Homo sapiens: one gene and its partners. The protein of the gene in region 1 purifies or fractionates together with the protein of each later gene. This does not show direct contact. Each region holds a gene or a part of one and is shown on either strand. Other genes may lie near its edges. The genes, in order: PCMT1, KLHL18, MAN2C1 and ALDH16A1.

Region 1 (7,034 bases):
CGTGTCTGGCCTTAATTTGTATATACTAAATAAAGAACGTTTCTGCTTTCTGCCTATGGACACTAAAAGTTGTTTATAATGATGTCAAATGACTATTAATATAAAATCTGGGCCGGGCACAGTAGCTCACGCCTGTAATCCAAGCACTTTGGGAAGCCGAGGTGGGTGGAGTACTTGAGGTTAGGAGTTCGAGACCAGTGTGGCCAATATGGTGAAACCTTGTCTCTACTAAAAATACAAAAATTAGCTGGGCATGGTGGCGTGTGCCTGTAGTCCCAGCTACTTGGGAGACTGAGGCAGGAGAATCACTTGAACCTGGGAGGCAGAGGTTGCAGTGAGCTGAGATCGTGTCATTGCACTCCAGCCTGGGCGACAGAGTGAGACCCTGTCTCAAAAATAAATAAATAAAATAAAATAAAATCTGTAACTTGGTGATGTATGTGCTTTTTTTTTTTTCTTTTAGCTAATAGATCAGTTAAAGCCCGGAGGAAGATTGATATTGCCTGTTGGTCCTGCAGGCGGAAACCAAATGTTGGAGCAGTATGACAAGCTACAAGATGGCAGCATCAAAATGAAGCCTCTGATGGGGGTGATATACGTGCCTTTAACAGATAAAGAAAAGCAGTGGTCCAGGTGGAAGTGATTTTATCTTCTGCTCTTTCTTCTTCCACACATGCAAGGTGAAAGGGTGTGGATTTTAAGACATTAGACTACAAGAGCTGTTTTTGGTTGTCACCTTTATGCTCCTCCATTATAACGTCAGAAATTCATTACATTAAAAATGTGAAAAATGTTGCATGGTCTGCCCTTATTTTGGTTTAACATATATATCTTTGGGAAAGGGAGGGTGAGACTTGGTTGGCACAAAGGCTTTTTTTGTTTGTTTGTTTGTTTTTTTTTTAGAGAGACTTTCAGCTTCAATTCAGTACTTTGTAAGGATTTTTTCTTCATTATCAGCCACTCTGTTTTTATGTTTTTAAATTATTTTTATAGCACTGGATGGGCATGGAAACAATGAGTTTGGTCTGTAAAAGAGGCCAGGCGGAGTGGCTCATGCCTGTAATCCCAGCACTTTGGGAGGCCTAGGTGGGCGGATCACTTGAGGTCAGGAGTTTGAGACTAGCCTGGCCAACATGGTGAAACCCCGTCTCTATTAAAAATACAAAATCAGCTGGGCGTGATGGCACAGGCCTGTAATCCCAGCTACTCGGGAGGCTGAGCCAGGAGAATTGCTTAAACCCTGGAGGCGGAGGTTGCAGTGGGCCGAGATTTTGACACTGCACTCCAGCCTGGGAGACAGAGCAAGGCTCTGTCTCAAAAAAAAAAAAAAAAAAAAAAAAAAAAAACAAGGGGCCATCATTTCCTGCCCTGTTTATTGTACCAACAAGGAGAAAGAAGGGGAAAGATAACGGTCGTCTCAGTTTTCTAAAATGTCAGAATACCAGAGAGGACATTCTACCTCTCAGCTTGGTTTATCTGTTTCAACCAAATCATAGATACCTGACAGCCCATGCCTATTTTTCATTCAGCCTTGTTTAAGAGTCACCTTCTCCCCATTCTATAGAATAGGCCAGCCACTGTTTAAGCTATTCTGGCTAAATTCCTAGGAAGAGGCAAGGATTCTACAAGTTACCCAATGAGTGCCCAGGTCTCACAAACCCACCCAGAGGGTCAGCAGCATGCAGCAACTTTCAGCACAGCATGGTTTATAAAGAATGTCCACTTTTGTTTTATGTCTCAGCATAATCTGAATATTTTGTTTGAAGCCAAGATTTCTCTTTTCCTCCCCTTCCCACTCCCTTCCATGAGAGAGAGTGACATCAGTACATAACAGTGCCATTAGCTCAAATTACTTGAAATTAAATGCCAAAACAAGAACGGCTTTACAGTTTCCTTGTCTTAGCATCTTATTTTTATTTGACATAAAGATTCTTATTTTAAAATAATTAGTTTCTTAATAAGTAAAAGGGGTGATAATAAGTTTAATAGATCTCTCAATGTTGTTTTTATTCTTCACCAATAGCTATTTTCTGTGAATTATACGTGGAGCACAGCCACTGGAAAAAAAAAAAAAAAAAAAAGCATTTTAGTCCAGGCATTTTGGGAGGCTGAGGTGAGCCAATCATCTTAAGTCAGGAGTTTGAGACCAGCCTGGCCAACATGGTGAAACCCTGTCTCTACTAAAAACACAAAAATTAGCTGGGCATGTTGGCTTGCATCTGTAGTCCCAGGCACTCAGGAGGCTGAGGCAGGAGAATTGTTTGAACCCAGGAGGCAGAGGTTGCAGTGAGTCGAGATCACACTACTGCCTTCTAGCCTGGGTGACAGAGCGAGACTCTGTCTCAAAAAAAAAAAAAAAAAAAAAAATTAAAAAGGCATTTAAAAAATTACTGGTTTTTTCAACTGGAATCAGATGTAGTTATTAACAACTAACTAAAACCTTCCTTCACTTTGCTTCTAGTATGGTTTATACAATTACATAATTGTGAGATTATTGTAGTATAAAAGGGGCAAATATGTTACTGAAATTACTGAAATTTGATAAGAAGAGTTGATTTTCATTAGCAACTTAGAAATTTTTCTTTTTATATACAATAAATATTAGTGTTGAACATCTTGCCTATAATTTATAATTTATAATTATGAAGGAATTATAAAAAGGGAATTTTGTTTTTATGACTAGAGGTAGATTTACTGTGAAGCTAACAAAGCTGAAGCTGCAGAGCCCTTGCTTGTCTAGGTTTTCTCTGACCCTGTTCTTAATTTAATTTAATTTAAAAAAGTGTTTTTTTTGAGACGGAGTCCTGCTCTGTTACCCAGGCTGTGTAGAGCAGTGGTGCAATCTCAGCTCACTACAACCTCCGTCTCCCAGGTTCAAGCAATTCTCCTGCCTCAGCTTCCCAAGTAGCTGAGAGTATAGGCGCCCAGCTAAATTTTGTATTTTTAGTAGAGAAGGGGTTTCACCATGTTGGCCAGGCTGGTCTCGAACTCCTGACCTCAGGTGATCTGCCCGCCTCGGCCTCCCAAAGTGCTAGGATTACAGGTGTCAGCCACCATGCCTGGCCCTGTTCTTAATTTTATATTATGCATAGTCTTACTGATTTTTTTTTTAACTTCATAAAAAGGTTCCCCTGTTTTCTAATTATATAAACCTTAGGCCCCCACAAAACCTGAATCCACCTTTGATAAAACCAAACTATTTGTATTAAGAAATTTAAAATAGGGCCAGGTATGGTGGCTTATGCCTGTAATCCCAATGCTTTGGGAGGTTGAGGTGGGAGGATCACTTGAGGCCAGAAGTTCAAGAGAAGCCTGGGAAACATAGTGAGACCTCGTATCTACTAAAAATTTAAGAACTAGCCAGGCGTAGTGGTGTGCACCTCTAGTTCTGGCTACTTGGGAGGCTGAGATAAGAGGATCACTTAAGCCCAGAAGCGGCAGTGAGCTGTGATCACCACAGCATTCCAGGCTGGGCAACAGAGCAAGACCTTATCTTTAAAAAATATATTTAGAATAATTTTTAAATTTATGGACAATTAGTCATCTGCTAAACATTAAATGTATACCTGCTTTTAGGCTGGGCGCAGTGGCTCACGCCTGTAATCCCAGCACTTTGGGAGGCCAAGGCGGGCAGATCACAAGGTCAGGAGATCGAGACCATCCTGGGTAACATGGCGAAACCCCGTCTCTCCTAAAAATACAAAAAAATTAGCCGGGCGTGGTGGCAGGTACCTCTAGTCCCAGCTACTCGGGAGGCTGAAGCAGGAGAATGGCGTGAACCTGGGAGGCCGAGCTTGCAGTGAGCTGAGATCGCGCCATTGCACTCCAGCCTGGGCAACAGAGCGAGACTCCGTCTCAAAAAATGTATACCTGGTTTTCTTTTTGACCTTCAAAGTTTTTTAAAAATTGAACAAATTTAGGCTGGGCACAGTGGCTCACGCCTGTAATCCCAGCACTTTGGGAGGCTGAGGCGGGCGGATCACGAGGTCAGGAGATCGAGACCATCCTGGCCAACATGGTGAAACTCCATCTCTACTAAAAAAACAATACAAAAATTAGCTGGGCGTGGTGGCAGGCACCTGTAATTCCAGCTACTCGGGAGGCTGAGGCAGGAGAATCACTTGAACCTGGGAGGTGGAGGTTGCATTGAGCCTACATTGTGCCACTGTACTCTAACCTGGCGACAGAGTAAGACTCTGTCTCAAAAAAAAAAAAAAAAAATTGAGCAAACTTACATGTTCGCACTATCAGAAAAAAAAAAAATTTCTCCAGGTGTACCAGGAGGACTTTCTAATTTTTCTGTTGTAGATGCTTTTCTTTGGCCATTTGTTCAGTTGCTAAATATTTTTCAGCGTGAGGATCTTCTTAATATTATTCGTGAATTCAACCAATATGCATATGCCAACTAGGCCAGGCACTGTACTAGGTGCCAGGAGTCATCAGCTGTGAATTTGAAACTGACTGCTCTCATGGAGCTTACAGTAACGTAGGAGATGCAAAGACCAAGATGAATAGGCAGTTATAGGGTAGTGTTCAGACTCGCGGTAGGGAGCCAGGCATTGAAGTGGTCAGAATTACATTTCAGAAAGATAACTCTAGCTGTTATGTAGAGACTAGCCTGGGAAGGGACAAAAGTCGAGTCAGAAACAGGAAGTGGTTATAGCAATTCAAGGATGAAATGATGGTCTGCATTAAGGCAGTGTTAGTAAGGATAGAGAGAAGTGGGTGGATAGCTACATCTAAAATACTGTCACTGTTTTCTGGGAATTATCATCTAAAAAGTTCCCTAGTCAACTTCTTGCCAGGCTACGTGATTTCTGTTCTTTCAAACTTTCCGTTTTTGTTTTTGTTTTGTTTTATTTTGTTTTGTTTTGATACAGTCTCTCTCTGTCACCCAGGCTGGAGTGCAGTGGCATGATCTCTGCTCACTGCAGCCTCAACCTCCTGGGCTCAAGCGATCCCCCCTGCCTCAGCCTTCTGAGTAGCTGGGACCACAGGGTGTGCCACCATACTCAGCTGATTTTCTTGTTTTTTTTGTAGACAAGGGGTTTTGCCATGTTGCCCAGGCTGGTCTCGGACTCCTGAGCTCAAGCGTTCCACCCACCTCAGCCTCCCAAAGTGCTGGGATTACAGGCTTGAGCCACCAGCCTCAAACTTTCTTCAGGATTACTTTAACTCATTATAATACTTTCCTAGGAACCTTCTCTTGTGTCTCACCAGCTTTCCACCTTTCTTACTGAGGAATAATCCAGAGCTAATTGCGGTGCTCTGATGAGGGTGAGATCCCATTTTTGCTGAGGCGATGTGGCAGAAACTGTATTTTTAAAAATGAGAATTAGTGGACATGTGGAATTCTAGTACCAAGTAAAGATCCAAACTTGAATGTAGACTTGAGTCTTTTTACACTTGGAAAGATGTCACTTGTAATTTTGGTGGATTAATAGAAGGGGAGACAATGCCAGATCTATAGGCCAGAGACCTAGAATCTGTGGAATTGTGTTCATGACTATGGACATGTAATAGTTGTATTAGTTGCTACAGAAAGTTAATAGTTCTTAAGTATTATTTTATTTTAAATAAATAATTTATATGTAAAAATATTTTGTTAATCTTCTGGTAAAAGTTTTATTTTTATTTATTTATAGATATTTTTGAGACAGAGTCTTGCTCTGTCACCCAGGCTGGAGTGCAGTGATGCGATCTTGGCTCACTGCACCTCCGCCTCCTGGGTTCAAGTGATTCTCCTGCCTCAGCCTCCCGCATAGCTGGGACTACAGGCACGCACCACGAGGCCCGGCTAATTTTTGTATTTTTAGTAGAGACGGGGTTTCACTGTGTTGACCAGGCTGGTCTCAAACTCCTGACATCAAGTGATCCACCCGCCTCAGCCTCCAAAACTGCTGGAATTACAGGTGTGAGCCACCACACCCAGACTATTTTTGTTTTTAGTAGTCACAAGAGTTAGTGTAATTGGTCCATCTTTAGTTTGTGAAACTGAGGAATGTTCAAGTTTATTATTCCATAAGCTCTTTGTTTATTGATGTCTTCTTAAAGTGCCTTGCATCTATGAAAAAGATGTTAGGAATTGACTGCATTTCCAAGACTGACAGTATTGGTGCTAAGGGATCCAATTGATCCCGTGTTCCATATTCTATATTGTTCCTTTTTAATCTCTTTACATATGTTCCAGTATTGTGACATACATTACATCCTTAAAAGCAGGGATATATTCTGTTACTTTTGGAATTCTTTTTGTCTCTCATAGTGCTTCGTACAAAGCAAATTGTACAACACTTTTATTACCTTGGAAGATCCATGAAATTATTAGAAAACGTTCATGGATTTTGATTGTTGTTTCCTTATAGTATATCTTTTCATTTATTCTTGGTAAAGAATGTATAAGACTAAATGTTAGTATCATAGAGTTAATAAAATCTAATAAATAATTAAATTATGTATAATTATATACTAGTAGAAATATATACAGTTATTAACCTAATGAATATATTTAGCATAGTATATAGCAATTTTAAAGAGCCTTTCTAAAAATTTAGTACATACTATTTTTTATTGTAAATGATCTATACATGTAAGTCAGATAAAGAAATGGTCATACAGAATTTTGAACATTGGGGAAAATTTAATAACTTGAAAGTTACATGGATTTTAGAGTATTAGGCTTTTAAAAAATTGTGCACGCGCTGGCAGCAAGTTTTTGTTTTTCCCTAGCACCTCTAATTTTAAAATTCAGGTCTATAAACCTAATTTCTTTTCCTTTTTTAAAGTATTTTTTAGACAGAGAGGATAGTTGGAAAAATGGTACCTATGTTGTTGAGGGGGCATTAATTTATTTACAGTATACTTAATGTCTTGCAGCAGGTAAATTGTAGTAAATTATTATTATTATTATTGTTTTCTGAGATGGAGTCTCGCTCTGTCGCTCAGGCTGGAGTGCAGTGGCGTGATCTCAGCTTGCTGCAACCTCCGCCTCCCTGGTTTAAGCGATTCTCCTGCCTCAGCCTCCCGAATAGCTA
Region 2 (7,034 bases), on another chromosome or scaffold:
CTGATCAATACCATCCCTACAGAGAATCAGTCATGGAGCCAAATAAGAATCCCCCAGGGTCTGCTGCTGTCACCAAGATTTTAGAATCGCACTGGGCTCGTTTGGAATTTTCTTAGATGCAACAGTAGTAAGAAAAACAAGCTGGGCACAGTGGCTCATGCCTGTAATCCCAGCACTTTGGGAGGCCAAGGCAGGAGGATTGCTCGAGCCTAGGAGTTTGAGACCAGTCTGGGCAACATAGGGAGATGCTTTCTCTACCAAAAAACACTTTTTTTTTTTTTTTTTAATTAGCTAGGTGTGTGGTTTCAGCTACTTGGCAGGTTGAGGTAGGAGGATCACTTGAGCTCAAGAGGTCAAGGCTATCATGAGCCATAATTGCACCACTACACTACAGCCTAGGTGACAGAATAAGACCTTGTCTCAAAAAACAAAAACAACCATAATAAAAAATTAAGACAGCCATTAACTTCATACCAGGTACCATGTATCATGGCTCAGCCCTAAGAGGTGGGTAGCTGTTGTCATCATCTTCTTTCAGGTGAGCAAATTACTGACACTTGGAAGAACATAACCCACCCAAGTTGCCCCATGAGCATCAGGGCCAGGATTTATCCTGGGTTTCTCTAGCCCTGATGAGTGTAAGTCTGCCAGGCTACCGTGGGAATGTGCACAAGAGTCCTGATTTCAATCTCAGCACCACCACTTGCTTATCTCAAGGGACTGTGAGCACCATTTTTGGTTTCCCTGAGCCTGTTTTCCATCTGTGAGTGCGTTACTACTTTACAGGTTAAGAAGATTCTGGAGAATGTGTATAAAAGGCCTAGCAAAACACTTGACTCACTGATGGTAAATAAATGATAGCTGCTGCTGTTGTTTCTGCTTGTCTGAACAATTAGGCCCGTGGAGTCTCTTTCTATCTAAAACAAGAAAAAATCTCAGCATTTTGGGAGGCCGAGGCAGGTGGGTTGCTGGAGTTCAGGAGTTCAAACCTGCCTGGACAACATGGTGAATCCCTGTCTCTACCACAAAAAGTACAAAAATTAGCCAGGCATGGTGGCACCTGTAGTCCCAGCTACTTGCAGGGCTGAGGCAGGAGGATCGCTTGAGCCCAGGAAGTCAAGGGTGATGTGAGCCGTGTTCACGCTACTGCACTCCAGCCTGGGGGACAAAGTGAGACCCTGTCTCAAAAAAGAAAAAAAAGGAAAAAAAAAGACAAGTATAAGAGTTCCCATACTAAAGAAGCCATCTGTCCGTGTTGTGTTTTTTTTGTTGTTGTTTTGTTTGTTTTTTGTTTTTTGTTTTGAGACGGAGTCTTGCTCTGTCGCCCAGGCTGGAGTGCAGTGGCGCAGTCTCGGCTCACTGCAAGCTCCGCCTCCTGGGTTCACAGCATTCTCCTGCCTCAGCCTCCCAAGTAGCTGGGACTACAGGCGCCCGCCACCACACCCGGCTAATTTTTTGTATTTTTAGTAGAGACGGGGTTTCACCGTGTCAGCCAGGATGGTCTTGATCTCGTGACCTCGTGATCTGCCTGCCTCAGCCTCCCAAAGTGCTGGGATTACAGGCGTGAGCCACCGTGTCCAGCCCTGTCTGTGTTTTTTAAACTCTAATTCTGTGACTTCAGTGCCTTCCTTGTGACCAAAGTTGAGATAATGCCCTGGACACTCAACCAGGAATTTCAGTGGTGGAACGTCTCAAACAGATTTTCAGTGCCTGCACTCCTGTGATGGTTACTTCTCACCTTCTGACAGTTACTTTACAGAACTACCCAGAGAGCTCATTCCACCTGACGCACAGAGCACCAGGCCCAAAAGGCAGGGACCTTTGAGGATAATCTTTCTTCTTAATTTTATACCTTTAGAAGTTGAGTCCCAGAGAAATACAGTTTCCAACAAAGCTGAGGTTAAGAATTTGTTTTCATTCTGTGGCTCTACCCAGAACCAGCCTGAGAATGATCAAAGATAACATCCTTTCTTCCTCTAATTTTTTTTTTCTTTCCTTATGCCAAAGGCTTCACCCAAAAAACTGCCTGGGTGTGCGCCAGTTTGCTGAGACAATGATGTGTGCTGTGCTGTACGACGCTGCCAACAGCTTCATCCACCAGCACTTTGTGGAGGTGTCCATGTCAGAAGAGTTCCTGGCCCTGCCCTTGGAAGACGTGCTTGAGCTGGTGTCTCGGGATGAGCTGAATGTCAAATCTGAGGAGCAGGTATGTGAGCCCAGTAGCAGTCTGTGCAGGTGACATGAGATGCTGCTCTTTATAGTCATTGTTTTGTTTATGTATTTTTTTACAAAGTTAAGATCATGACATGTATGTGGCTGTTGTATATTATTGGGCTTGTTTTACTGTATCATGCATTTTTCATGAAAACTTTCTATGTTTTATTTATTTTTTTGAGATAATATCTTGCTCTGTCACCTAGGCTGGAGTGCAGTAGCAAGATCATAGCTTACTGCAGCCTCATCCTCCCACATCAGCCTCCCGAGTAGCTGGAACTACAGGCACATACCACCACACCCAGCTAGTTTTTGTATTTTTTGTAGAGACCGGGTTTCACCATGTTGCCCAGGCTAGTCTTGAACTACTGTCCTTAAGTGAGTTCAGCCTCCCAAAGTGCTGGGATTATAGGCGTGAGCCACCGCACCTGGCCTCCATACATTTTAGTGTCTAAATAGCATTCTGTTGATTTTTGTCAACCTACTCACCTTATTCTTGCATGTTTGGGTTATTTCCAATATTTACTATTAGAAATAATCCTCCTGTGAACCAGAAACAGCAAGCATAGATAATTTTTTTGTTGTTTTTTTGAGTCAGAGTCTCATTCTGTCACCCAAGCTGGAGTGCAGTGGTGCGATCTTGGCTCACTGCAACCTCCATCTCCCAGGTTCAAGCAATTCTCCCGCATCAACCTCCTTGAGTAGCTGGGATTACAGGCATGCACCACCATGCCAGGCTAATTTTTATACTTTCAGTAGAGACGGGGTTTCACCATGTTGGCGAGGCTGGTCTCGAATTCCTGACCTCAAGTGACCCGCCCATCTTGGCCTCCCAAAGTGCTGGGTTTACAGGCGTGAGCCACTGTGCCCGGCCTAGTATAGATAACTTTTTGAAAGAATCTTGTTCTAAGGAAGAACAGAACATTGGGGCAGCTGTGGGAGGGGTCTGTGAAATCAAGAGGGGTTGTTGTTTGTTTGTTTTTGAGAAAGAATCTTGCTCCAACGCCCAGGCAGGCTGGAGTGCAGTGGCAACAATCTCAGCTCACTGCACCTCTGCCTCCCGGGTTCAAGCAATTCTCCTGCTTCAGCCTCCCAAGTAGCTGGGATTACAGGTGCCCGCTACCATGCCTGGCTAATTTTTATATTTTTAGTAGAGATGGGGTTTCACCACGTTGGCCAGGCTGGTCTTGAACTCTGGCCTCACATGATCCTCTCACCTTGGCCTCCCAAAGTGCTGGGATTATAAGCATGAGCCATCATGCCAGGCCTTTTTTTTTTTTTTTTTTTTTTTGTGAGACAGAGTCTCACTCTGTCACCCAGGCTGGAGTGCGATGGCACAATCTCAGCTCACTGCAGCCTCAGCCTCCCAGGTTCAAGCATTTCTCCTGCCTCAGCTTCCCAAGTAGCTGGGATTACAGGTGTGCGCCATCATGCCTGGCTAACTTTTGTATTTTTAGTAGAGACGGGGTTTCACTATGTTGGCCAGGCTGTTCTCGAACTCCTGACCTCAGATGATCTGCCCACCTCGGCCTCCCAAAGTGCTGGGATTACAGGCGTGAGCCACTGCGCCAGGCCCGACCTTTTTTTTTTTTTTTTAAAGTGAGAGAAATTACAGCATATTTGACTGCTGTTGGGAGTTTTCCAGAAGAGAGGGAAGAATTGATAATATTGGAGAAATGGGAGAGCAGTTGTTGGAATGATGTTCTGGAATAAGTGAGGACAGTCTAGGGCATAAGGGTGTGCATCTTTGATAGGAGCACAAGCCATCCATATCCACAGTAGCAGGAGGGAGAGCTGGGGCACACGCCCAGGGACGGGGGACAGGTAGATTCTTACTGAAATTCTCTTCTGATTTTCTATTTTCTCACCTGAGAGTGAGGATGAGGGACGAAGGTTAGAAACTTAAGGAAGGCCGGGAGCAGTGGCTCACGCCTGTAATCCCAGCACTTTGGGAGGCCAAGGTGGGCAGATTTGTTGAGCTCAGGAGTTTGAGACCAGCCTGGGCAACATGGCAAAACCCCATCTCTACTAAAAGCACAGAAGTTAGCCAGGCCTGGTCCAGCTTAAACTCCTGGCCTGTAATCCCAGCTACTTGGGCTGAGGTGGGAGGATTGCTTGAGCTGGGAGGCAGAGGTTGAGGTGAGCTGAGATTGCGCCACTGCACTCCAGCCTGGGCGATGGGGCAAGACCCTATCTCCAAAAAAAAAGAAAGAAAGAAAGAAAAGAAAAAAGAAATTTGAGGAGGGATTAAAAGGTATGATTTATTTTCCTCTTTCCTCTAGAAAAGGGGGATGCTAGAGAGGTGAAGCGGGCTTGATAGGAGCCTGGGAGAAAAGTGGATCCTGGGCTTGGCAGCATAGACACTGTGGTTTCGAGGAAAAAGCCTCATTCCAAAAACTAGGTGTCCTGTCCCTAGCTCTTAAACTAATTAATATGACGGGGGGCGGGGGGGCAGCTCACATTTCTTTGAGTGATACATTTCATAAGGGCTGTAGGGCTTTAGAGGGAGAGGTCCTTGTGGTTGGAGCCATTAAGAAAGGCTCCTTGGAGAACATGGATCTAGAGCCAGGCCTTAAAAATAGGGGAGTGGGTTTAGATGAAGAGGAGGAGATGAGGGCATTTTAGATGAGGGGGGACAGTGTAAACAGGAGAACCAGCCCAGCCTTGCCGGAGTACAGAGAGGGTGATGGAGGGAGTTTAGAGGGAGCAGGGGTACAGGAGCAGCGGGAAGGGAAACAGGCATTTTGTTTTCACAGAAAGTAATAAGATGCCATTGATGATTTTTCACTAGGAAATCATAATCATAATGAAATTCAGGAAGCTGTTCTAGTAGCCTAGGAAGTAGAGAGAAATCAGGGATTTCAGAGACAAGTAGGAGAAAAGATTGATGGGCCCAAGGGACTGCTTCAGTATAGGAAGTGGAGGCATTGAGATTGGAGGCCTGGGGTGTGGCCTCTGGGTGGGAGGATTTGCTGCCAGAACATCCACTCTCATGACAGGTCTTTGAAGCTGCATTGGCCTGGGTCAGATACGACCGGGAGCAGAGGGGTCCCTACCTGCCTGAGCTGCTGTCCAATATCCGCCTGCCCCTCTGTCGGCCCCAGTTCCTTTCAGACAGAGTACAGCAGGATGACCTGGTGCGTTGCTGCCACAAATGCAGGTGAGTGAGGGTGGACCTGCACAGGACACTGCCAAAGGTCTAAGCAGGGAAGAGGAGTTGGCCACCTGTTCCAGTTCTGGAAAGAAAGCATTTAGAGTGATCAGTCTAATTCATGGCACACAGATTGGTCTGCCCTCTGTCTAGAAGCTGGAACAGGAAGTGTGAAGAGCCCGAATCTTATGCCTTGGGCAGAGAGATGTGCCATGTGGGAGCATCAAAGCAGAAAGGGCTTTCCCCTGCTGAGTTATCTGAGGATTTTCCAGCATCTTTCCCCACTGAGCTATTTATGAATGTGCAACCATCTTTACTGCCTGCTCTGACCCTGTCCACACCAGCAGCTCACTCAGTGGCGCAAATGGGACTTCCTGGGGCTCATTGCCCTCTTCAGTAAATATTAGTCAGTGCTGTGGGCATGGAGGGCCTCTGCCAGGTGTAGGCTTTACATCTACGATGATGGGCAAGGGGCAGACATGTTTACCAACACATGAAACTTTTACCCAGAGCAAATCAATGACAACATGGTACAGCAGAGTTACCCAAACAGTTCAGAAGATGGCAGCCCTATAGGATGATTGCTGTAAAAGTAGAACAGCAGAGAAAAATGTTCATTCTCCTCCAGATTGCTTATCAAATTCACAACCCTGAAATATTTTTTTCTCCTTTGCTGATAAAAACTTTACACACATTCAGCTTTCTTTCATTTTCCAACTCCTGGTTGGGATCAGCTGGTTCAGGAGGAAGTAAGTGCCTGTCCATGGCAGATGGTGTGAAGGTGTGTGTCAGGATGGGGTGGAGTAGTGTCTGGAGGTAGCTAGGGCCCAGTGACCAGCGGTCTCAAGGGTGCTGTTGAGGAGTTTGGACTTTATTCTGTCGGCAGTGGGTGGCTATTGAAGGTTCTTAGCTTGAACTCTAGTGTGGAAGTGGAATGGAGGGGCAGGCCTGAGGCAGGGAAATGTGTCAGGAGCTGCCACCGTGGAGATGAGTGGTGATTAATTGCAGGTTGCAAGCCACGGTGCAGTCGTAGGGATGGAAAGGAAGGGCTAGGTCTGAGTGGCAACAGGGTGCATGCTGCTTGTCGAAACTCCCAGGTCCAGCCATTTTGGCCACTACCTTGTTTTTCTCATGCCTAATCTACACTAGCTGAGGTGGTCTTTGCTTGTCTTGCCCCTTTAATTTTGAGTATATCTCAGTAGCCATGTATGATTTTCCCAGAACTCACCTGGTTTCTTTGAGACCAGACCTTCCAGAAGGCTTCTCCTCCCAGGTTTCCCCTGCAGTTGGCAGTGGAGAGCCAGGCTCAGAGATGCAAACGAGGACTAAGTCAGGGGGATACCTCCTGTTCTAGCATCTTCCACCTTATTCTAGGGACCTGGTAGACGAAGCAAAGGACTACCACCTCATGCCAGAGCGCCGGCCCCACCTGCCAGCTTTCAGAACCCGGCCACGCTGCTGCACATCCATCGCTGGACTTATCTACGCTGTAGGGGGCCTCAACTCAGCAGGTACCTTGCGGCTCCCCTTTATAGACCCTCCTCTTGGACTCCATGGATGAGGAAGCACCAGACAAATTAGCCTGGCCCTTCTGGTTTCTCTGTTTTGTACTGTCACCACCCTTGCCCCTCTTGATTTTATACAATTGCTCTACAGTTAGAGCATGTCA
Region 3 (3,350 bases), on another chromosome or scaffold:
GGTAGGAAGGGCCTGCTGTCCGGTCCTGGTGACAGAAGGCCCAGCTCCTCACAAGGCAAACTGAGCCCCCATCCCAGTCCTCAAGGCTCTGACTCTATCAGAGGACAGTTTGCCTCTGCAAGGACAGCCCCTCAGAGGTGGTACAAAGACCCTGGCCCCAGGCAGCCCAGGAGCCAGAGCTCCTCCAGTCCAGATTCTCCAGGGTCCAGGGCTGCCCCCTCATCCTGGCAGGAGCCAGGCAAAACCCACCCTTCGGCCCCTCCCCAGCCCCAGGCCCAGGCCCTTTACCTGCTGGCACAGGGGAGGGGCTTCTCAACTCATGGTCTCTTCACTGGCTTTTGGTGGCTCGAGGTCCCCAGTCTCTCCTGTGGGGGCTGCAACCCAGACCCTGCACGCACAGGTACCTTAGGATCTTGCCCCTACCCACCAAATACCTGGGAAGCCATCCCACCCCAGACTTCCCACCCCCACCCCAAGCGTGAGGATGGGCCCTAAGGGGACTGAGCAGCAGGGTTCCCGATCCAAGGATTTATTCCACAAGAAAAGACTGATCCCTGCTTTAGGCTGGGGAAGCAGAAATTAGGAGTCCCCAGAGCCTTCTACAAACAAAACCCCAGCCCCAGGGACTCAGTGTGGCGGAGGCTGAAGCACGAGCAACAGGGACAGCACTTGGAAGGGAGAAAAGGTGAGCTTCAGGCGGTTGTCCCGAAGGGTCAAGTGGCCAGCAGGGTCTGGTCGCTCCAAGAGATCGCAGCTGGAGAACAGGAGGGGCCATGAAGGCTCTGCGAGGGCGAGACTCGACCCCCGCCCCAATCCCACACCGCCACTCACAGGATGGCCTCCTGAACCGGCAGCGACAAGTGCAGCCAGCAGTCCACGTGGCTGCCGTGGGCCTCATACAGCCTCAGGACCAGCGAGCGGCGCTGGGGGCTGCTCTCCGCCTGCAGAGGAACACGTCTGGTGGGAGGGGCCGAGGGCAGGCCCAGTTCGGAACCCCGTCCCCAGCACGTCCCACCCCTTGCCTGCTTGACGGTCTCCAATACGACCGCGGGTGAAGACACGGAAAACGCACTCCAGGAGGTGGCGGGCGCTGGGCTGGGGGCTGGCAGAGCCAACAGGGGGAAGTTTAGGCTGTAGGCAGCTTGGATAACGCCAGCATCCTGGAAAGAGCCTGGGGTACGACCAGGAAACAATGCTGGTGGAGAATGGGGGCTACCCTCCCCTGTCCCTAGAAGGGGCAGGAAGCCAGGTTGCTGGGGTTTGGGCTCAGGGAAGGGCAGAGAGGTGTCTAGGGCTGCAGGAAGGCCCCACCGTCCCCAGCACTCACCCTTGTGCGGCATCAGTGCATAGGTGAACTCGTGGCGCCCCGTGTCAGCAGTAGCGTCCGGGGCTTTAGGCGCCCGCAAGCTGGGGTGAGGAGGGCGCGTAGGGGCCACGCTGAAGCTGTTGGAGTTGTGGTCGGGAAGACCCATTTCTCCATGCCAGCTCCCAGGCCTGGTGGGTACCCCACTTACAGCGAGAGGCTGAGGATGCTGCCTCGCACTGACGCGCCATACTTGCAGTCGTTGAGCAGGGCCAGCCCAAAGCCGTGTTCTGACAGATCCATCCAGCGATGGGCCCACACCTGGAGGGCAGATCCAAGACCCACTTGGTGGCCCTGTGCCCCTCTTTGTGCTCCCAGACTCCAGAGCTCCTGTCACTAGGCCGAGCACAAGCTCTAGAACCACACAACTGAACTCCAGCTCCCACTGTACGGGGCCCTGGGCATGCCACCCAACCTGCCTAAGCCTCAGTTTCCTTATCTGTGAAACGGGAATAAATAATAGTACTCACCCCATCGAATGATCATGAGTATCAAATTAAATGTAAAACTTTGTTTTTTTCACACAGGATCTCAGTCTGTCACCCAGGCTGGAGTGCAGTGGCTTGATCTCGGCTCACTGCAACCTCCGCCCTCCAGGATTCAAGTGATTCTCCTGCCTCAGCCTCCCAAGTAGCTGGGATAACAGGACATGTGCCACCACGCCCGGCTTTTTTTTTTTTTTTGAGATGGAGTCTCACTCTGTTGCCAGGCTGGAGTGCAGTGGCACAATCTCAGCTCACTGCAACCTCCGCCTAAAGGGTTCAAGCGATTCTCCTGCCTCAGCCTCCCGAGTAGCTGGGATAACAGGACATGTGCCACCACGCCTGGCTAATTTTTCTGTATTTTTAGTAGAGATGGGGGTTCACCATGTTGTCTATGATGGTCTCGATCTCTTGACCTCGTGATCCGCCCACCTCGGCCTTCCAAAGTGCTGGGATTATAGGCCTGAGAACACTGCGCCTGGCCAATTTTTGTATTTTTTTTTTTTTTTTTTTTGAGACAGAGTCTCGCTCTGTCGCCCAGGCTGGAGTGCAGTGGCACGATCTTGGCTCACTGCAAGCTCTGCCTCCCAGATTCACGCCATTCTCCTGCCTCAGCCTCCCAAGTAGCTGGGACTACAGGCGCCCACCACCACACCCGGCTAAATTTTTGTATTTTTAGTAGAGACAGGGTTTCATCGTGTTAGCCAGGATGGTCTCGATCTCTTGACCTCGTGATCCACCCACCTCAGCCTCCCAAACTGCTGGGATTACAGGCGTGAGTCACCACGCCCGGCCCAATTTTTGTATTTTTAGTAGAGATGGCGTTTCACCATGTTGGCCAGGCTGGTCTTGAACTCCTGACCTCAGGTGATCCACCCACCTCGGCCTCCCAAAGTGCTGGAATTACAGGCGTGAGCCACTGTGCCTTGCCAATGTAAAGCATTTAGTGCAATGCCTGGCACACACGTTAGGAAGCAGCAAATGTTGATTATCCTCTTCCTCCCCAGCCTGTTCCACACAAGCAGTCTCCCCAGCCAGGGAGGAGTCCAAGGCCACTCCCACCCTGCCATGTCAGACCTCAAATCGAGCCCAGTCCCAAGAGGTATTGTAGTGGGTAGGTCGCTGCAGGTGCCCAAACTGGATCTCATAGGTGGCCTGGGAACTCCGCACGCGAGCAGGGAACTCCACCTTCAGGAACTTGTGGGCCTCATGCCAGTGTACCTGGGAGTGGGAAGGAGGGTGGGAGTCAGGGAAGGAAGAGACACACCAAGGCCTGGGGCTGGCCCCTCCTTACCAAGCACACTTGGGGAAAACAGCCACCCCCTACCCCCCGACTACCTCGGTGTGGAAGCGGACATAGGGGCAGCCAACGTCCAGCACAACCTCCTGGCTAAGCCGACTGTTGGGGCTGATCTGTAGCAAGAACCAGGCGCTGCCCCGCAGGCCGCCCTCGGTGCCCACTGCCAGGGTCCCTGCCTGGCCCAGCACAGGCTTCCTATGGGACA
Region 4 (7,034 bases), on another chromosome or scaffold:
GAAGACTGTTACTGACGAGGGGCTTCAGGCTGGACCCAGGCTCTGCAGCTACAATGCCCAGCTCCTCCCAAGCAGAACTTCCAGATGGTAGGGAAAAGCACTGGACCCAGTGGTTAGGGAATTTCCTCTCCCTTAACAGCCCATGTTGAAAGGAATGGGCCCCAAGGCTCTTGTCAACAAGTTCACATCTGTTACCAACAGGAGGTTTAAGAGAGTGGACGGTGGGGCGCGGTGACTCGCTCCTGTAATCCCAGCACTTGGGGTGGCTGAGGCGGGAGGATCGCTTGAGTTCAGGAGTTTGAGACCAGCCTGGACAATATGGCGAGACCCCGTCTCCATTTAAAAAGTAAAAATTGGTTGGGCACAGTGGCTCACGCCTGTAATCTCAGCATTTTGGGAGGCTGAGGCAGGCAGATCACGCGAGGTCAGGAGTTCGAGACCAGCCTGGCCAATATGGCGAAACCCCATCTCTACTAAAAAAAAACCCCCAACAATTAGCTGGGCATGGCGGTGAGTGCCTGTAGTCTCAGCTACTTGGGAGGCAGGAGAATCACTTGAACCCGGGAGGCAGAGGTTGCAGTGAGCCAAGATCGTGCCACTGTATTCCAGCCTGGGCGACAGAGTGAGACTCTGTCTCAAAAAAAATAAAATAAAATAAAATAAAATAAAAAAAAAAACAGTAGACTCAACCAGTTGTGCTGGCTCACACCTGTAATCCCAGCACTTTGAGAGGCCGAGGCGGGCAGATCACTTGAGCCCAGGAGTTCAAGATCAGCCTGGCCAACATAGAGAAACCCCAGTCTCTGCAAAAGAAAAAAATTAGCTGGGCATGGTGGTGCACGCCTGTGGTCCCAGCTACTCAGGAAGCTGAGGTGGGACGGTGGCTTGAGCCTGGGAGGTTGCGGCTGCAGTGAGGTATGATTGCATCTGGGTGACAGGGTGAGGTTCTGTCTCAAAATAGAAAAACAAAGCGTAGACTGTGGGCCTCCAAATCTAGGGTGTGGTCCTTAGCAACGGGCTGTCCCCTGAGACGAGGTCTTTGGGCTAGGCAGCTCTCAGGCCCCTGTTGCTAAGGACAGCCTCTTCCTTAGTAACTTGAGTCCTAAGGGCGGGGCCTCAAAACCTTCTTGTCAAGGAGTTTCTCCCCTTACCAACAGGAGTTCTAAGAGGGCGGGGCTGTGTTTCCAGAAAAGGAGGAGCCTGTTTGAAGTTTGAGATGCTGAAGATGGCAAAACAGAACAAAGAGCACCTGGGCTGATCCGAAATACCACATGGCCTGGACGTCTTGGTGCAAGGCCAGGCAGCGGGTCAGATGGTCCCGGTCTCCTGTCACCACGTTGGCCAGGCCTGCTGGGAACACGGTGGCCATGTCCTAGGGGATAGAGAGAGTGAAAGGTTGGGGAGGCCGTGGGGGCAGGGCAAGGAGTGGGCATTCAGGGGGTGCCCATGGGAGGGAAGGGGATGGGGGGTCATGGAGGAGAAAGCCCCAGGCCTAGGGTGAAGAATGGGCACTGGGTCCCCAAGGAGTGAAGGTTTGGGTGCTGGGGCTGGGGGCAGCATGGGTACCACGGAGGGTGGGGTAAGAGACAAGCTCCTGCCGACTTTGGGGCGCCTTTTTCTGCTGCCCTGAGGCTACGGGGAGGAGAGGCAGGAAGGCAGGGGGCTATACCTGGCAGACCTCCAGGGCCAGCAGAGGACAGGCCGCACTGGGCACCATGACCACAGTGTTGCCGTAGGCCAGGGCGGGAGCCAGCAGGGACACGAAGGCAAGCAGGGGCCACTCGTCCGGACACACCACAGCCAGCACACCCAGCGGCTCCCGCAGGCGCAGCACAGGGCCTCTCAGCCCGGCTACCTGCAGGGACAGGTGGGTCACGTGTGGGGCAGGGGAGCCCCGCCCGCAGTAAATGAGAGATCCAGTTCCTCTACATTCTCCCCAACACTTGGTGTTGGCCCAAACCGCACCATTGTGGAAGCCCCTGCCATTTCGCAGACGCTGGTCAAAGTGAATCATTCCACGGGGGTTCGGGCGGTGAGAAACATCCTGCATAACCGCCTTTCTTTTTTTTTTTTTTTGAGACGGACTCTCACTCTGTCGCCCTGGCTAGAGTGCAGTGGTGCGATCTTGGCTCACTGCAACCTCCGCCTCCCGGGTTCACGCCATTCTCCTGCCTCAGTCTCCTGAGTAGCTGAGACTACAGGCACCTGCCACCATGCCCGGCTAATTTTTTTTTTTTGTATATTTAGTAGAGACGGGGTTTCACTGTGTTAGCCAGGATGGTCTCGATCTCTTGACCTTGTGATCTGCCCACCTTGGCCTCGCAAAGTGCTGAGATTACAGGCGTGAGCCACTGCGCCTGGTCTATTTTCTTTTGTTAAAAATAAATATGGTGTTGGGGGGTGGGAGGCAAGGGGAGGGAACTTAGAGGGCAGGTCAATAGGTGCAGCAAACCACCATGGCACGTGTATCCCTATGTAACAAGCCTGCGCGTTCTGCACATGTATCCCAGAACTAAAGTAAAATAAAATTTAAAAAAAAGAAGGCCGGGTGTAGTGGCTCACACCTGTAATCCCAGCACTTTGGGAGGCCAAGGTGGGCGGATCACGAGGTCAGGAGATCGAGACCATCCTAACATGGTGAAACCCTGTCTCTACTAAATATACAAAAAAAAAATTAGCCGGGTGTGGTGGTGGGCACCTGTAGTCCCAGCCACTCGGAAGGCTGGGGCAGGAGAATGGCGTGAACCTGGGATGCAGAGGTTGCAGTGAGCCGAGATTGCGCCACTGCACTCCAGCCTGGGCGACAGAGCGAGACTCTGTCTCAAAAAAAAAAAAAAAAGAAAGAAAGAAATATGGTTTGGCCCATGATATAGTTCAGATGTCCCACCCAAATCTCATGTTGAAATGTAATCCCTGGCCAGGCGCAGTGGCTCACGCCTATAATCCCAGCACTTTGGGAGGTCAAGACAGGCGGATCACTTGAAGCTAGGAGTTCAAGATCAGCCTGGGCAACATGGCGAGTCTCTTGTCTCTGCAAAAATACAAAAACACCCAGTCATGTGTGCTGGTGTGTGCCTGTGATCCCAGATACTCAGGAGGCTGAGGTGGGGGGCTCACTTGGACCTCGGAGGTTGAGGCTGCAGTGAGCCATGATTGTGGCACTGCACTCCAGCCGGGTGCCAGAGGGAGACTGGTGCCAACATGCCCAGCTAATTTATCTATTTTTTGTGGAGACAGGGTTTCACTGTGTTGCCCAGGCTGGTTTCAAACTCCTGGCCTCAAGCGATCCACCCACTTTTGCCTCCCAAAGTGCTAGGATTACAGGCGTGAGCCACCATGTCTGGCCAGGTATTTTTTGTTTTTTGTTTTTTTTTGTGACACAAGGTCTCACTCTGTCACTCAGGCTGGAGTGCAGTGGCACGATCTCGGCTCACTGCAACCACTGCCTCCTGGGTTCAAGCAATTTTCCTGCCTCAGCCTCCTAAGTAGCTGGGACTATAGGTGCCCACCACCGTACCCAGCTAATTTTTTGTATTTTTAGTAGAGACCAGGTTTCACCGTGTTGCCCAGGCTGGTCTCGATCTCCTGACCTCGTGATCCGCCTGCCTCAGCCTCGCGAAGTACTGGGATTACAGGCGTGAGCCACTGCGCCCCCAGGTGTTTCTTTACAGCAATGTGAGAACCGCCTAACAGCCCACTAAATTGATTTTAGGGTCCAGGAATGGGTCGCTATCCATCATCTGGCGAACGCTACTCTACGAGGCGGGTTGTGTGCCCACTCACTGTACAGATGAGGGAACTGAGGTAGGGAGAGGTGAAGCCACTTGCTGATGATCCTGCCGTGGAAGGCGGTGGGGCTGGGCCCGAATTCCAAGCCTGGGTTATCTCACAGCCTCTGGTCTGAGCCCCACCCCGCCTGCCCAGCTGGCCCAGGTGCCCACAGACCCTTCACCTGCAGGGTGTGGCCTTGGGCCTGCACCCGGGCCCCCCACGCCCGAAGTCGTCTTGCGCTCAGCTCCACCTCCGCCTCCGCAGCCTTGAGCTCCGCTCCCTGCCTCTCCAGCCTCGAGGCCAGGGTAGACTTCCGGCGCTCCAGTGCAGCCGCCAGGGCCCACAGCAGGGCTGCCCGGGCTCCTGGGGACTGGCCCGCCCAGCTGTGGGCAGACAGCGCACAGTGGGGGTTGGCATCCTGGTCTTGGCTCTCCTGACACCCCACCTCTGTCCACAGCCCCTACCCTGGGGGCCCAGCCTCCCAGTCCACCAATTGCTGTGGGCAGGCTCCCCTCTCTGCCACACCATGACCCTTGGGCTTTCCCGTGTGACCCCTTACCCAGGGAAAGCCTGGTGAGCGGCCTCCACAGCACCTCGGATGTCCTTGGCTCCACCCTCAGCCACGTAGCCATGGAGGTTGCCAGACGAATCCCGGATGGGCCTGGAGCTTCGGGCCCCAGGAGCCTGGAAACGGCCCCCAACGAAGAGCCCATAGGGGGGTGCTGGGCTGGAGTAGGGTGGGACATGAGGAGGAGTCCTGGGGCCTCAATCTGCTCAGACCCTATGCTCTACCGCACTGGGAAGACTGCCTTGGCTCCCGTGAGCCTCTGGGGCACCCCAAACCCCTGTTCCCATGAGCCTCTGGGGGACCCTAAAACTCCTGCTCCCATGATTCACTGGGGGACCCTAAACTCCAGCTCCCATGAGCCTCTGGGGGACCTTAAACTGCTCCCATGAGCCTCTGGGGAACCCCAAATTCCTGCTCCCATGAGCCTCTGGATGACTCAAGTTTCTGCTCCCATGAGCCTCTGGGGGACCCCAAACCCCTGTTCCCACTAGCCTCTGGGTACCCTAAACTCCTGCTCCCATGAGCCTCTGGGGGACCCTAAACTCCTACTCCCATGAGCCTCTGGCAGACCCTAAACTGCTCTCATAAGCCTGTGGGGCACCCCAAATTCCTGTTCCCATGAGCCCCGGAGGACCCAAAGCTTCTGCTCCCATGAGCCTCTGGAGGACCCTAAGTTCCTGCTCCATGAGCCTCTGGGGGACCCTAAGCTCCTGCTCCCATGAGCCTCTGGTAGACCCTAAACTGCTCCCTTGAGTCTCTGGGGGGACCTCAAACTCCTGCTCCCATGAGCCTCTGGAGGACCCCAAGTTTCTGCTCCCATGAGCCTCTGGGGGACCCCAAGCTCCTGCTCCCATGAGCCTCTGAGGGACCCCAAGCTTCTGCTCCAGTGAACCTCTGGGGGACCCCAAGCTCCTAGACCCATGAGTTTCTGGGAGAGTACAGACATTCATGGGGCAGAGCTGAGAGTCTCGGCAGGCCTGGGGTAGGGAAAGTGTGAGGCCACAACGTGGTACTCAGCAGGACTAAGAGATGGTTTGGATGGACCTCGCGCCAGCCCTCCAGTCCACGGGGAAACAGGCATCAATTCCCCTCTCCCCGTTCACACTCCCAGACCACTGGCCCCCAACGACTCACCTGGGCCCTATTTCAGGCCCAGCCGGCAGGGTTGAGGGAACAGCGAGGCCAAAGGTGTCATAGTTCAGGTTCTTGGAGAGGCAGGACAGCCGGGCAGGGGTCCCTGAGGGCCGCAGATACTCATACAGCCCCTGTGAGAGGGACGGTGTCAAGAGGATGCAAGGGGCACGCGAGGCCGGATGCGAGTGTCAAGGGCATGGGGCGGCGGGGGGGCTGGTGACGGGGAGGGGATGTACTCACGTCTGGGCCCCCGTGCCAGGAACACCCACTCTCCTTGCAGCCGCCTGTGGGCACCGAAGGGTCTCTGAGGCCGTGGGCGTTGATCCAGACAGTGCCCACCTGGAGCCTGTGGGGAAGATGAAGGTGTCCAACAGAGGAAAACAGACGGTGGCAGGCCGGGAGAGGGGTGAGTTAAAGGCGCGGGGAGCGACCCAGGGAGAAGGGAGATGAAGATGGAAGAATGAGGAGAGGAGTGAGCGCCCGGGCCACGCAGACTGACCCATAGCCCAGCTCCAGCGCCTGCCCCAGCCTCTCGCTCCACACACTGGCGCTGCCCCCGCGGGGCGTCCCGTTGGCCACCAACAGTGCCTCCTTGGCTGTGCGGAAGGGGGAGGCCACGACCACAGGCCACGGCACCTGCAAGGGGTGACCGGGAGGCTCAGCCCTCCAGGGCCCACCCACCAGGGAAGGAGCCTAGAGCAGGCAGCAGCCCCCACGCCCAGGTCACATGGTTACCCCAAGGGCTTCCCCAGGCACAGAGCTGCTGCCCTTGGCTGGCGGTGGGTAGGAGCTCTGCAGCCTTAAGGGTCTCACCTCCACCTGGGCACATGGGGAGGCTGGGGGCAGGTTGGAGACCAAGGTTGGGGGATAGAATGGGCGTTCCGAAGGCACATCACCAGCCTGGAACACCTAGGGAGAGAAATGATCTAGAAGTCGACTTCTGGTCCCTTCCTGCTGAGACCGAGGACTGCAGGACCCCAGCCCCTCCTCCCTCAGACCCAGGAGTCCAGGCCCCCAGCCCCTCCTCCCTCAGACCCAGGAGTCTGGACCCCCAGCCTCTCCTCCCTCAGACCCAGGAGTCCAGGCCCCCAGCCCCTCCTCCCTCAGACCCAGGAGTCTGGACCCCCAGCCCCTCCTCCCTCAGACCCAGGAGTCCAGGCCCCAGCCCCTCCTCCCTCAGACCCAGGAATCCAGGCCCCAGCACCTCCTCCCTCAGACCCAGGAGTCCAGGCCCAGCCCCTCCTCCCTCAGACCCAGGAGTCCAGGCCCCCAGCCCCTCCTCCCTCAGACCCAGGAGTCTGGACCCCCAGCCTCTCCTCCCTCAGACCCAGGAGTCCAGGCCCCCAGCCCCTCCTCCCTCAGACCCAGGAATCTGGACCCCCAGCCCCTCCTCCCTCAGACCCAGGAGTCCAGGCCCCAGCCCCTCCTCCCTCAGACCCAGGAATCCAGGCCCCAGCACCTCCTCCCTCAGACCCAGGAGTCCAGGCCCAGCCCCTCCTCCCTCAGACCCAGGAGTCCAGGCCCCCAGCCCCTCCTCCCTCAGACCCAGGAGTCTGGACCC

The links.
Region 2: the proteins of PCMT1 (region 1) and KLHL18 purify together in Homo sapiens (affinity purification with mass spectrometry; 3 studies listed by BioGRID and IntAct, with this or other methods). This does not show direct contact.
Region 3: the proteins of PCMT1 (region 1) and MAN2C1 purify together in Homo sapiens (affinity purification with mass spectrometry; 3 studies listed by BioGRID and IntAct, with this or other methods). This does not show direct contact.
Region 4: the proteins of PCMT1 (region 1) and ALDH16A1 purify together in Homo sapiens (affinity purification with mass spectrometry; 3 studies listed by BioGRID and IntAct, with this or other methods). This does not show direct contact.

Annotation. Positions count from the first base shown.
Region 1 is NC_000006.12:149,801,737-149,808,770, forward strand, and holds part of PCMT1 (protein-L-isoaspartate(D-aspartate) O-methyltransferase), read left to right. Parts: intron 1-463; coding exon 464-643; 3' UTR 644-680; exon of another isoform or gene 681-795; intron 796-1,388; exon of another isoform or gene 1,389-2,057; intron 2,058-3,566; exon of another isoform or gene 3,567-3,603; intron 3,604-7,034. UniProt on the Homo sapiens protein: Initiates the repair of damaged proteins by catalyzing methyl esterification of L-isoaspartyl and D-aspartyl residues produced by spontaneous isomerization and racemization of L-aspartyl and L-asparaginyl residues in aging peptides and proteins.
Region 2 is NC_000003.12:47,327,944-47,334,977, forward strand, and holds part of KLHL18 (kelch-like protein 18), read left to right. Parts: intron 1-2,007; coding exon 2,008-2,206; intron 2,207-5,213; coding exon 5,214-5,374; intron 5,375-6,739; coding exon 6,740-6,876; intron 6,877-7,034. UniProt on the Homo sapiens protein: Substrate-specific adapter of a BCR (BTB-CUL3-RBX1) E3 ubiquitin-protein ligase complex required for mitotic progression and cytokinesis.
Region 3 is NC_000015.10:75,355,279-75,358,628, forward strand, and holds the end of MAN2C1 (alpha-mannosidase 2C1), read right to left. Parts: intron 3,341-3,350; coding exon 3,184-3,340; intron 3,067-3,183; coding exon 2,923-3,066; intron 1,838-2,922; exon of another isoform or gene 1,625-1,837; coding exon 1,515-1,624; exon of another isoform or gene 1,408-1,514; coding exon 1,328-1,407; exon of another isoform or gene 1,172-1,327; coding exon 1,023-1,171; exon of another isoform or gene 942-1,022; coding exon 832-941; exon of another isoform or gene 755-831; coding exon 628-754; 3' UTR 514-627; downstream 1-513. UniProt on the Homo sapiens protein: Cleaves alpha 1,2-, alpha 1,3-, and alpha 1,6-linked mannose residues on cytoplasmic free oligosaccharides generated by N-glycoprotein degradation pathways.
Region 4 is NC_000019.10:49,463,202-49,470,235, reverse strand, and holds part of ALDH16A1 (aldehyde dehydrogenase family 16 member A1), read right to left. Parts: intron 6,383-7,034; coding exon 6,287-6,382; intron 6,110-6,286; coding exon 5,973-6,109; intron 5,820-5,972; coding exon 5,714-5,819; intron 5,605-5,713; coding exon 5,474-5,604; intron 4,499-5,473; coding exon 4,331-4,498; intron 4,155-4,330; coding exon 3,953-4,154; intron 1,856-3,952; coding exon 1,670-1,855; intron 1,373-1,669; coding exon 1,250-1,372; intron 1-1,249.